Homo sapiens: one gene and its partners. The protein of the gene in region 1 interacts with the protein of each later gene in a pairwise test. Each region holds a gene or a part of one and is shown on either strand. Other genes may lie near its edges.

Region 1 (2,824 bases):
AAATACATGCAAATAACAAGATTTTCTTACCTCTCAGTTGTTGAAACACTTTGCTTCTTAAAATTGATATGTTGAAACTTTAATTCTTTTATCAATCCCAGCATTTTGAGATCAGTCTTTATTAATAAAACCTGTTCTCTTTAATCAGCTTAAAATCCAAAGTGTCATATTTACTGGTCCTGGAGACAAACTTGTTCAAAAGAACATCAACGTGCAATGTTTTAAGGTCTATCTTAAGAAGCCCTGGCCAAATTTTGATCCTAACCTTGAAGTATGCCTTGAACTTATTAACATGGCCATTATAAGAATAAAATATGTAGTTGTGTCTTAATGGAATTAATAAATGTCATTTCACTACTGGTGTTCTGTTTCAATGTATAAGGACTATAGTGATTTAAACTCATCAATGTGCCTTTGCATAAAGTTCATTAAATAAATATTGATGTGGTATAAATGCCCATCAGATATGCTTAAACTTGGTTTTCAGTTGAATGAAGTAGAGAATGTCCTCAGGACCATCAGCATTTTAAAGGTTATGTGACTTTTGCTGATTTCTCTGAGTTCAAGTTAAGCATGAAGTTAGTACCTCAAGCCTGTGATTTTTCCCTAGGGATGATACAGACCCAAGAGGCTACAACAGAACTTAAACTGGCTTCGTAATTAGAGTTTTTAAGATAATTGTTTGTTTTTCAGCAATATAGACTGAAAAGATCCAAGCATATTTAGCCACTTGCTTTTTTGTTTCTTGTTTTGTTCTTCTTTGGATGCCTGATTAGTATTGAAAGATAGAAATATTCTATGAACTAATTAGGACAGATTGTGTTGTGTTTCTCTACCTCATCTTGTTGATCTCTGGAGCATTAAAATCTATTTAGTGTTGTCATCAGTGTGGTACTTATGAAATGTAAGCTAACAGCAATCTCAGAAGGGAGGCAGTGAAGCATAGCAACTAGGCTCTTGTTTCTTCAAGATGGCCCCTGTGGGGCAGTGCATAGATGGGGGTGTAAAGAGAAGCTGTTGGCATTAAAATGAGCTAGATAATCAGCCCTTGTTGAAGCATATTCCATGGTATAAGAGTAGCACAGACATGAAACATAGATAAAGAAGGAAGGCTTAATAGACTAGAAGACTTCCACATTGAAGTATTATTAACCCATTGTATGTATATAGGGGCATGATCAGAGTCTCTATAACTTCCTGATTAACAATACAGTGTATCTTGTTACCCAGCTGTCAGTCTTTGAGAGCTTTCAGTAAAATATAGTAAATTCTTTCAGCATAGGCTAATGTGTGGTTACTGAGATGAGTGTTGTGTACTCAGAACCGTAGCAACATTTTTATGAATGGTAAAAGTACAAGAGGAGGAAAAGTTAAAATTAGAAGAAAAGTACAAGTTATTGCTTAATCATAAATCACACCAGATAACACATTTTGTTAATTTCATTAGCTATTACTGGAAAGGACCTTAACGATTATTTACAGAAAGGGGAGTGAAATTCATTGAGGTTCCATATCAAGTGGGCAACAAAACTATTACTAGCATTTTGATAAAAATTGCCCCTAATGAAATCTAGTCACTCAACAGTAAAACAACAGCTGGTTTACACTTGAAATTATGAGATCAGAATTGGGCACTTTGGGCTTCCGTACTATGTTTTGCTTAAGTTTTTTTTTTAATACTAATATGGGCTTTTTCAGTAGTAATATACCAAAACACTTCTATTTTAATCTCTGTTTGCTACTTCAAAACCTAATCCTCCTCAGATGGGATCATGAGCATAAGAGGAAAAGAGAAGAGAATGAATACTTGTTGACCTCTTGATGTGTATCAGATGCTTTAGAAATGTAATTGTATTTAATCCTCAAATACCTTATAGGTATTATTATCCCCTTCTTACAGATGAGGAAAGTGAGGCCCAGTTTAAATAACTTGCCCAAGGTCCTTTGGCTAGTACTGGAAGGAGTCAAGATTTAAACACAGTTCTGTCTGAATCCAGAACTCAAAATCTACATTGCACATGTTGCTTTCCTGGTGGTTCGGTGGAATGGACTGCAACGCATTAGATACTGCTGTTATTCTTCCAGGCCACCGCTCAGCTAAAAATAATTGTGTGTGTGTGTATATATATATATATGTACACACACACACATATATATACACACACACATATATATACACATATACATATATATACACATATATATACACACACATATATATGTATATATATACTACATTCTTGATCCTAAGTCTTTTTTAACTTAAATTTTATTACTTATACAGAATTCTTATTTATACTTTAATTATAGGTGTGACGAAGAGAAAGAGAGTAGGGAAATACACAGGCAGTGGTTTTAAGTGTAGATGATGGCTCCTTAACCCAGTGTCATTAGATAATCAAACCTAAAGTCTTCCCATATTAGGCAAGCGCAATTCTCTATTTTGGACCCTTCCCATTCTTCCCTTACCTTCTGCTTTTCGTACTGAGGAATTTCGTGTGATTTTAGATAAAGTGATAATGAGATATTGAGCAAATAAGAAAATAGAGGTAATGCTATAAAAAACTAAGCTATGTACACTTTCAAAATGCATGTTTCTTGCATGCTTTTTACTACTTAATTGCATTCTTTGCTAATTTCCTTTCCTTGCTGTCTGTTCTTTTCTAACAGCTGAAGAATGTTCTGCTGACTCTGACCTCAACTTTCTTATTCCTGTTGCAGTGGGTGTGGCCTTGGGCTTCCTTATAATTGTTGTCTTTATCTCTTATATGATTGGAAGAAGGAAAAGTCGTACTGGTTATCAGTCTGTGTAATCAGTTAAATC
Region 2 (3,500 bases), on another chromosome or scaffold:
ATTTGTACAAAATAGTAGAGTTAGCCTATCCCTTTCTGCCTTGAATCCTGGTGCTTGCCTCTCTTCCTTACTAATAAATGTCTTTTGTGGCATGTTTTTTCAGAATAGGGCACTTTGATCTCCACTAAAAACCTGTTCTGATAGATATCCTTTCTTCTCAATGATTTTCCTAATGATGTGTGGGAACTCATCTGCTATCTTTTGTTTGGCAGAAGCTGCTTCTCTTGTTTTGTTGACATTTTTAAAGCCAAACTTCTTTCTAAAATTATCAAGCCATCCTTTGCTGGCATTAAATTCTCCAGCTTTAGATACTTTATTAGGGTTCTCCAGAGGGACAGAACTAATAGAATATATGTATATATGAAAGGGAGTTTATTTATTTATTTTTTGTGAGACAGGGTCTCCCTCTGTTGCCCAGGCTGGAGTGCAGTGGTGCAGTCTTGGCTCACTGCAACCTCCGCCTCCCGGGTTCAAACGATTCTCCCGTCTCAGTCTCCTGAGTAGCTGGGATCACAGGCGTGTGCCACTACAGCCCAGCTAATTTTTGTATTTTTATTTATTTTATTTATTTAGAGATGGAGTCTTGCTCTGTTGCTCAGGCTGGAGTGCAGGGGCTCAATCTCGGCTCACTGCAACCTCCGCCTCCCAGATTCAAGCGATTCTCCTGTCTCAGCTTCCCTAGAAGCTGGGATTACAGGTGCACGCCACCATGCCTGGCTAATTTTTGTATTTTGAGTAGAGACGGGGTTTCTCCATGTTGGTCAGGCTGGTCTTGAGCTCCTGACCTCAGGTGATCCACCCGCCTCAGCCTCCCAAAGTGCTGGGATTACAGACGTGAGCCACTGCGCCCCGCCCCATCCACTCAGTCTTAACAGATATTCTTGTGTTTGCCTTTTTAATGCCCTTTTAATCATTAGTATATATAAGAAGATTATGGACAAGTTTTTCTCTTTCTCCCCTCCTTGGAAGCCATATTAAAACAATTATTTCCCAGATGCAGTGGCTTACCCCTGTAATCCCAGCACTTTGGGAGGCTGAGGTGGGTGGATCACATGGGGCCGGAATTTGAGACCAGCCTGGCCAACATGGCGAAACCTTATCTATACTAAACATACAAAAATTTGTGCAATTGGTGCACGTCTGTAATCCCAGCTACTCGTGAGGCTGAGGCACAAGAGTCACTTGAACCCAGGAGGCAGAGGTTGCATTGAGCTGAGATTGTGCCACTGCGTTCTAGCATGGGTGACAGAGTGAGACTCTGTCTTAAAAAAAACTCCAGAAAACAATTATTAATGCATTTGATTCCTTGAAGGCTTTATACTGTGTTTTCTTTGGATAAACGTATTGGTACAATGAAGCATGCCTTTATCACTGGCTTCATCTAGAGAGGCAGATAACATCTGTTTGGCAAGCTTCACAAAATTCATTTGGAATTATAGAACCAAGATTAACTACGTAGGTGTGCATTGTGGATTGCATTCTGCCAGTGGCCCTGGCTTACCAAATATGCACTGAACTTGTCTTGGGTTCTATGGTCTAGTCCTTTTTTAAGACTTAAAGAAGGGATCCAGTTTCAGCTTTCTACCTATGGCTAGCCAGTTTTCCCAGCACCGTTTATTAAATAGGGAATCCTTTCCCCATTTCTTGTTTTTGTCAAGTTTGCTACAAAAATTAACTCAAGATGGATTAAAGACTTAAATGTTAGACCTAAAACCATAAAAACCCTAGAAGAAAACCTAGGCAATACCATTCAGGACATAGGCATGGTCAAGGACTTCATGACTAAAACACCAAAAGCAATGGCAACAAAAGCCAAAATTGACAAATGGGATCTAATTAAACTAAAGAGCTTCTGCACAGCAAAAGAAGCTACCATCAGAGTGAACAGGCAACCTACAGAATGGGAGAAAATTTTTACAATCTACTAATCTGACAAAGGGCTAATATCCAGAATCTACAATGAACTCAAACAAATTTACAAGAAAAAATCAAACAACCCCATCAAAAAGTGGGCAAAGGATATGAACAGACACTTCAAAAGAAGACATTTATTCAGCCAACAGACACATGAAAAAATGCTCATCATCACTGGCCATCAGAGAAATGCAAATCAAAATCACATACCATCTCACACCAGTTAGAATGGCGATCATTAAAAAGTCAGGAAACAACAGGTGCTGGACAGGATGTGGAGAAATAGGAACACTTTTATACTGTTGGTGGGAGTGTAAACTAGTTCAACCATTGTGGAAGACAGTGTGGCGATTCCTCAAGGATCTAGAACCAGAAATACCATTTGACTCAGCCATCCCATTACTGGGTATATACCCAAAGGATTATAAATCATGTTGCTATAAAGACACATACACATGTATGTTTATTGCGGCACTATTCACAATAGCAAAGACTTGGAACCAACCCAAATGTCCATCAATGATAGACTGGGTTAAGAAAATGTGGCACATATACACCATGGAATCCTATGCAGCCATAAAAAAGGATGAGTTCATGTCCTTTGTAAGGACATGGATGAAGCTGGAAACCATCATTCTGAGGAAACTATTGCAAGGACAGAAAACCAAACACCGCATGTTCTCACTCTTAGGTGGGAATTGAACAATGAGAACACTTGGACACAGGAAGGGGAACATCACACACTGGGGCCTGTTGTGGGGTGGGGGGAGCGGGGAGGGATAGCATTAGGAGATATACCTAATGTAAATGACGAGTTAATGGGTGCAGCACACCAACATGGCACATGTATACATATGTAACAAACCTGCATGTTGTGCACAGGTACCCTAGAACTTAAAGTATAATAATAATAAAAAAAAAGACTTAAAGAAACAAACGAAACTTATCTTGCCGCTTATTTGTCCCTTATTTTCCCACCATTAAAAGCTCATTTGATGTTCCCTTACATATCCTGCTTAATTTCTCTGAACCTTAATTTCCCTGCTATAGCATAAGTATGTCAGATGGCATCCTTAAGTTTCTTTCTATTGACTGAACACCCCCTCTGGTGTTGTGTTTATAAATAGTGGAGACAAAAATGCAGCAAGACAGGAGAAAGGAAAGCTCTGGATTGTCAACTCATAAAATAATCCAGACTGCGATTACCAACTCCATTTCAGCGGCTGCATCTTTTTTTGATTCTTCTATGGGCTTAAGGTGGTGGTAGTTATATGGGTGAATGTAAAATATCTTTGTGGAATTTTAACTCTACAGATTTTAAATTGTTGATTGGATTGCAGTCTCTTTGTAGTACTGCCTATAGAATATTCTCGGTGCCTACCAAGTATTTGACTACTTCATTCTGGCCTAAATATATGGAATGAATTTAGGTATGAATGTTGCTAACATGATTTCTTGTTGCAGACAAAACTTACCTGGGGTCCCTACTTATGGTTTTACATGCTTCGGGCTGCTACATCAACTCTCTCAGGTATTGCTTTTCTGCTTGAATATTGTATAATTGCTGTAACATGCTTCAGCAACAG
Region 3 (2,751 bases), on another chromosome or scaffold:
GGGCGAAATCCATAGAGATGAAGTTCCTCACCGGCTACGAGGTCAAGGTGAGCAGGGTTGCGGGGGATCCCCTGGGCCTGCTGACCCAGGGCCCGGCTCCCTGTGTAAGAATGGATGAAAGCACAGGGGGCAGCTGCCCTCAAGGGGCCCCCAGAGCCCGGGCCTCCTTGGGCACGGTCTGAAAGCTGGGGCCCACCCCGGCCCATGCTGCCCTGCTGAGCGTGAGATTTTCCGAGTGGGCCAGTGAGTTGGGGACTTGTCGTGAAGCTCTTGTTTCTGCCTCTCACTCTTGCCCACTTAGGGCTTGGGGTTGGGCCTCGATTGAGCCAACGTGCAGAGCAAGTGGGAAGGGAAGCCCCAGCCCTCCCCTCATCGAGCCTCCCTGGGGGGAGTTGGAAGAAACCTTAGAAGCCTTTTAAATAAAGGGGAACGGTCTGTGCTGGTGCCGCCTGAAGCCACCCACAAAGTGGCATTTTCCGCTTGCTGCTTGACAGTGGGGAAGGAGTTAAAGAAATCCAGGTCAAGCCTTGGGTCTGCCGTCTCATAGGAGTGTCATTTGAGGCTTGTCAGTATCTCTGAGCCCCCCTTATCTCAGCTGTAAGCGCTCAGCGGGCAGCAGCTCTCTCCCGCCTCTTCCTTATGGCCACTCGCACTGACTCGATTCCTGGCCGCCCCGTCCCTCTGACCACCTTGGGCTGTCCCTGGCGGCAGCTCCTCTCCCCTGCTCTGCTGGCGGCGGCTTCCTTAGGTTGCTAGTTCCCGTGGGCAGACACACGGCTGCTGGGTGTGTCTTGGGTGGACTCTGGCAGGCTCAGACACGCATGGTGGGAGGCCCTGCCAGCTTAGGCCCACGGACTCTGTTCTTTTTGGCCAGAACAGTGTTTTGTTAAAACTCTGTATGAGTGCCACGAGGCGGGACGCATCCTCTGCACTCTGCCACAGGCCCCGCCACTCCCTTTTGTATCACATCAGCCCAGTCCATGTTACCCTCGTGTTCCCGGCCCCTGTGGGTTTGAGTTTATGCCCATTACCATGATGTAATCCAGTTTACAGCAGAGCTTTGAATGAGAACTCAGCGCCCCGGGCACTGTGGGAGGAACCCGGGCTGGTGGAGGGCTCTGGTGTCTCGCCGCCATTTATCCTTCCTCTCTTGCCCCAGGTCATGGAAGACGCCCACTTGGATGCCATCCTCATCCTGGGGGAGGCCTTCGCCTCTGATGAGCCTTTTGATTTTGGCACTCAGAGCACCACCGAGAAGATCCACAACCTGATTCCCGTCATGCTGAGGCACCGTCTCGTCCCCCCACCCGAGGAAACCTACTCCCTGCACAGGAAGATGGGGGGCTCCTTCCTCATCTGCTCCAAGCTGAAGGCCCGCTTCCCCTGCAAGGCCATGTTCGAGGAGGCCTACAGCAACTACTGCAAGAGGCAGGCCCAGCAGTAGGGCTGCGGGCCACGCCCAGGCCGGCTCCGCGGGAACTCTCTCCCTCAGACAGGCCAAAAACCAGTAGCGAGGTCGTGGTGATGCTCTTTTTAACTCCTTTGCCCAATAAGGGGGGTGGCTGCCTGGAGCCCCGTAGCCAGCGCTTTCCACGGTTTCTGTTGCTAAATGGTTGTAGGGTGAGAAGTGCAAGAATGAAGATGAAGCCCCACTGCTCGGTCAGTCTGCCTCCGTGTGTCCTCTGAAATAAGCAGATGAAGATGAAAGGGCAACTTTGTTTTCTTCTTTTTCCTGATGTGAATGTTAAGCAGAAGGGAGAGAGTCCTTACTCCCTTCCAATCTCTGTTCAGTGCAAAACCCAGAAACATGAACAGATACGATTGTGGGATTTTATCATCTGTGTAGTAGGTGTGTGTATGTGTTTCTAGAGTGAGATTTGTGTTTTCTGCCCTTTTCCTCTCCAGCCGATGGGCTGGAGCTGGGAGAGGTGCTGAGCTAACAGTGCCAACAAGTGCTCCTTAAGCCTGCGAGGCCCAGGCCTGTGGGGCTGGTTCTCACCTTTGACAGCTGAATGTTCCTAAAGAACTGCTGCCCCACAGTGAGGGTGGGAGCAGCGGAACAGGGAATGCCAGACACAGGCTCGCTGCTGCTGGAAGGCGGGGTGGGACTTCCTTCCTCTGTCCGGAGAGGCACAGGTGTCACCAGTTCCAGCCAAAGGCTCCTCACAGGCGCTGTGAATTTTTGTACAAGTCTTGTAATTATCGAATCAACAACTTGTTTCAATTTAATAAAAATGCTCATGGGAAGTGCTTTGGCGCGTGTACCCTCTTCTGTATTCTGGAGAATGACGACCCGTATCTTCTAGCTCGTGGTGGTGGTTCTTTTCTGACCTGACGGTCAGCAGGTTCAGTGTCACAGCCCATTTGCAAGGGTTGGGACTGGTTCAGCGTGAGGCCCTTGGCCCTGAACCTGGAAGGCTCAGCCCCGTTCCCTGTAAGAAGGGAGGTGGGAGGGGTGGAGAACAGGAGGAGAGGTTGCGGTGTCACTGCCCCAGCCCCCGGGAGGCTGTACCACACTGCTGAAGCTGCTGTACCTGGTGATGGTGGCAACTGGGAGGACAGTGACACCTGCCAGCACGGCTGATGCCAGGTCTGCATCACAGTGAGACGTCTCCTCTCTAGACATCAGCTGCAGTTGAGGACCACGTCCTGAAAAGTGGCTTTTCCTGGGGCCAGACTGATTCCTAGATAACAGGACACACTGGACACTGAGCTGGGGCCCTTTCTACGGACCTGTGAGCAGTTGAAAGT
Region 4 (4,094 bases), on another chromosome or scaffold:
CATGTTGGCTGCCCAAAGGGCTCGCCGCCCAAGCCGGGCCAGAAGGCAGGAGGCGGAAAACCAGCCTCCGGTGGCGGGCGAAAGCAACCGCTCTTTCTGTTCTCTCTTCGCCCTCCCTCGTGGAAACGCAGACTCGACCCTAAACGCTTAACCCACAGAGATCAACAGGTTCAAGCGGAATATTCGCGATCCTCGGTTTCTATTGGTTGCTCAAAGCCTTTTCATGCAACCAGCAGCTCGGATGTTTAATAAAATATGAATTTTTCTGCTCTGGGTTTGCACACATCCGTTGCCACTTTCCTGTCCTTCTCCTCCCTTTAAAAACAGGAGCTCTTCTAGTGTGAGCATATACAGCCACCATATATATATCCCCCTGGAACCTTTATCCTCTGCGCCCGAATCAGAGACTCCGGGTTTTAAGAAGTCAAAGCTGAGTTTAGATAGTCGAGGCTGTTTGCAGTTCTTCCCAGCGCAGGATCCAGGCCAGCATGGGTGTTAAAAATCATTTCCGGAAGAGCCGGTCTGCAGAGAAATTAATACTTGCCCTGAGCTTGGAAATCAACAATCCCAGGAACTGCGCCCGCCGGGGGTTCAGACCTGAACCTCGCCGTCAGGCGCGCTGGCGAACCTGTAGTTCGGGCCTGTAGTTGTGGACTCATGGCCGGGAGGCTGCACTGGGCACCTTGACGGTAACTCCACCACTTTACAAATTTAGGAAGACCTGGTGCTGGTTTGGAGGAAGAAGAGTCGCTAGATCTCGGCCCTGCCGGGCATTCTAGCTACGGTGATCTTAAATATTGCCGTATTTTCTAGTTCTCAGAGTTAGTTTTGTGGACATTTGTCCTTTCTTTAGGAAGGAACATTATAGTAAACATTATGGGCCAATTTAATAGCAAAGTATTTTTACTGATATTGTATTGAAATTTAAATATGAAAACACACCCTTCAAATTCTGCCAATGAGGTGGGAAGGCTTTGTCTATTACATGTCATCTACACAGTGGATGCCACTCAAAGTTTTGGGGCTTCGAGGAGATGTCCAAATTTCAAGTTGATCCATAGACTTAATAAAATCTCTATTTTTGTCCCCAAATTTCCAATTACTGATCTAAACAGGAACAGACCGTGTCATAAACAACTTAATTGCTTGCTTAAATATGTGATTCCACGCATGCCACATATTTTCTTAATTGGAAAAATATGGCAGTACACCAGTTACTGCAGGCACCAAGTGCCAAATCAATTTTATTGTTGAACTCCTTTGAATTGGTATAGAACGCTCTGCCATTGAGATAAAGACGTTTCCTAACACTGAGCTAGCACCAAAGGATTTTTGCTCTAAGAGAACCGAGTACTGGGTGATTGAAAACACTAAAGGAATTGTGTAAATATAGATCCCCACCTCCCCCGCCGCCCCCCCCCCCCGCCCCCAACACACCAAGAAACCGAAACGCCTCGCCCGGGAGAAGCAGCGTAGCCTGGACCTCAGCTTTCGTTGGCTTCCTTCTACCTTGAAAGAGAATGGGAAGTTTTGGCCCCTAAGATCCAAAGATTCAGGGGCTCTGCGGAGTTCGAGGGGTCTTGGCGGCCCCAAACACCTAGGCGACCGGAGGGTTAAGCTTTCCACCTCTGCCCCTTCTCCCTCCCGGCAAACTCTGCGCTAGAGGCTAGCTTTAGTCCCGCCGTCTGGTTCAGCACCCCCTCCTGCAGCCCGGCCCCGCGAACTTCCACGTCCGCCTGCGGGCCATCCGGGCTGCGGGCCCATCCTCCCGCTGGTGAAAAATGCATTTCGGTGGAATGGGAACATCTGGGAAGGGCGCGCACAAACCCCACACGCTTCCCCCCACGCCACCCCCACAACACACTAGGACCCCACCCATGACCGAGCATACCACCGGACCCCCACCCTTCCACTATCACTCTAGCTGACAAAGCTGGGGTCCAGGGCCCTCTCCGTGTCCCTCTCCCCTCCCCGCTGGGCCTCGGAGTCCTCTCCCGCCCGAGAGGAGTCCGGAAGGCGGGAAGGGGAACCGCTGCCGGGGGTCAGTCAGGTCGTTACCCTCCGTCAGTCGCGGGCTGCCCGGCTCCCTGCTTCTCTCGGCGGCGCCCATGTCCAGCTCCCGGACGGGAGAGCGCCCTCCTCCAGCTCCTCCGCCTGCTCCTCCTCCTCCTACACCTCCTCCGCCTCCTCCGCCGCCGCCTCCGCCTCCTCCGCCGCCGCCTCCGCCGGCCGCCCGGACTGCCGGGCTGCTGCGGTCGTCGCGGCCCGCCTCGGTGCAGCCGGTCGGCTCCTTGGCCCCGCGCAGCGGCCCGCTCTCCAGCACCTCCCGGTACGTGATCGCCTCCTTCTTCTCCTTCACTTTCTGGTCAAAAGACTTGGAGACGAACGCCGTAAGTTCTTCCATCGCCGCCGCACGTCAGCCCGGCGCTCAACCTCTGCCAGCAGAGCCCCGCTCTTTTTTTCCTTCTTCTTTTTTTACTGCTCCAGCCCCCCCAATAATAACACATCAATGGGACAGGAGGTGGGGGAGGAGAGGGAGGAGGAGAAAGAAGAAGAAAAAGAGGAGAAGAAAGAAGAAAGAGGAGGAGAAGTAGAAGGAGAAAAAGAAGTAAGAAGAGGAGGAGGAGGAAGAAGAGGAAGAGGGGGAGAAGGGTGAAGAGGAGAGGGAGGAGGAGGAGGAGAAGAGAAGGGGCGGGGGCTGCCGGAGGGAAATGGGAACTGATGCTTCCCTGCCGGAGCGCGCTTGTTCAATGTTAAGATCTTTGACAATTCTTCCTGCGGAGAGTTCAGATCTGATAGCGACGCTGCGCTTGAAGTCCCACTATTTATACTTCCTAACGGCGGCCTCTTGTTTTGAGTAAATTACCTCCCCTCGCAACTCGGAGTGAGCCCCCTTCCCGGGTAGCAGTCGCGCCTCTACCGGGGGTTGGGGAGGGGAAAAGGAGAGAAACAGAGAGAGAGAGAGAGAGAGAGAGAGAGAGAGAGAGAGAGAGAGAGAGAAGAGGAGAGAGAGAGATTGGAGTTCGGGCGGGCTGGGGCTGGAGTGGTAGGGCAGCACAGGGGGACCGGAGGGGGCGGGGAGAGAAGGCCGGTCCCCGGCCGCTCAGGTTTTCAGATAGCCCCTGCCGCCTGTGCTCTTGGCCATTAATCCAGGATTGACAAGAATCCCTAATTAATTTAATTAGGCGTGGATTTTGCGTTGGTGTCACGACTTAGTTAAACACTGGGGAGCTGGATAGACCCCGCGGGGTGGGGCCAAGAGGAAACTGACAAGTGCGCAGCTCTTAGAGTCAGTCAGGTATCCCGACACTGCATCCTTCCCTACAGCCTTGCTTCGAGTCAGGGTGCCTCGCAATGCTCAGCTTCGCATTGCTTTTCCTCGTCCCTGCCCTGCATCAACCGCCCAGCAGTTTACAGGCCCCGCATCCCATTCCCGCATCCTGACCCCGCATCCCAATTCTGCATCCCCGCCTCTCCCTCACAATCCCACCCCTGCCGGCCGTAGCTCCACCGCCCAGCATCATCCTGCCCAGAGACAGGGTTGCCTGCACCTTCTCCGACCCGCGCAGCTTCTCTTAGGAGCTTCCCGGCTCGCAGGCAGGCTGAGTCCGGGTCTTCTCCAAGCTCCTCGCCCCTCGGTCCGTGTTATTCGCTCTATTATTCGTGTCCTGGAGCCCAGCTGACTCCTCTATGGACAGACCCCGCTAAAAGGGACCAGTCGATTTAACAAGTTTCCCCAGCAGCTGTTAGCTGACAGATCTCATTTTAAAGTGTTTCCTTAGCGCCCGGTCAAGGACAGCTCGACTTCGTTCGTTTCCTCTCTGAGGTCTCAGAACTCCCACCCTTCTCCCTTACTCTCTGCACTCGGACCCCTCTATGGTGAATTACAGGACTTCTTCTTTAGCATCTTGGGAAACATCCGAGTTTATTTACTAATTTGAAAAACAAGAGATTATCCCTCTTCGAGTCTGAAAAAAAAATCGACGTTAAGTTTGTACCCCCTCTAATTTCATTTATTACGGAGAGCTAAAAAAGAGACGCTCGCCAGGAGTAAAGGTCTCTCTGCCTACCCCCCCCACCACCCCGCTTACGAT

What was found.
Region 2: the proteins of LAMP2 (region 1) and FAM177A1 interact in binary tests that used the Homo sapiens proteins (3 or more experiments, as listed by UniProt).
Region 3: the proteins of LAMP2 (region 1) and COQ8A interact in binary tests that used the Homo sapiens proteins (3 or more experiments, as listed by UniProt).
Region 4: the proteins of LAMP2 (region 1) and SHOX2 interact in binary tests that used the Homo sapiens proteins (3 or more experiments, as listed by UniProt).

The regions. Positions count from the first base shown.
Region 1 is NC_000023.11:120,428,473-120,431,296, reverse strand, and holds part of LAMP2 (lysosome-associated membrane glycoprotein 2 isoform A precursor), read left to right. Parts: 3' UTR 1-2,670; coding exon of another isoform or gene 2,671-2,813; 3' UTR 2,814-2,824. UniProt on the Homo sapiens protein: Lysosomal membrane glycoprotein which plays an important role in lysosome biogenesis, lysosomal pH regulation and autophagy.
Region 2 is NC_000014.9:35,073,772-35,077,271, forward strand, and holds part of FAM177A1 (protein FAM177A1 isoform 1 precursor), read left to right. Parts: intron 1-3,378; coding exon 3,379-3,445; intron 3,446-3,500.
Region 3 is NC_000001.11:226,985,294-226,988,044, forward strand, and holds the end of COQ8A (atypical kinase COQ8A, mitochondrial), read left to right. Parts: coding exon 1-47; intron 48-1,159; coding exon 1,160-1,444; 3' UTR 1,445-2,251; downstream 2,252-2,751. UniProt on the Homo sapiens protein: Atypical kinase involved in the biosynthesis of coenzyme Q, also named ubiquinone, an essential lipid-soluble electron transporter for aerobic cellular respiration.
Region 4 is NC_000003.12:158,103,621-158,107,714, forward strand, and holds the start of SHOX2 (short stature homeobox protein 2), read right to left. Parts: upstream 2,801-4,094; 5' UTR 2,405-2,800; coding exon 2,059-2,404; intron 1,822-2,058; exon of another isoform or gene 1,510-1,821; coding exon of another isoform or gene 1,438-1,509; intron 1,386-1,437; exon of another isoform or gene 1-1,385. UniProt on the Homo sapiens protein: May be a growth regulator and have a role in specifying neural systems involved in processing somatosensory information, as well as in face and body structure formation.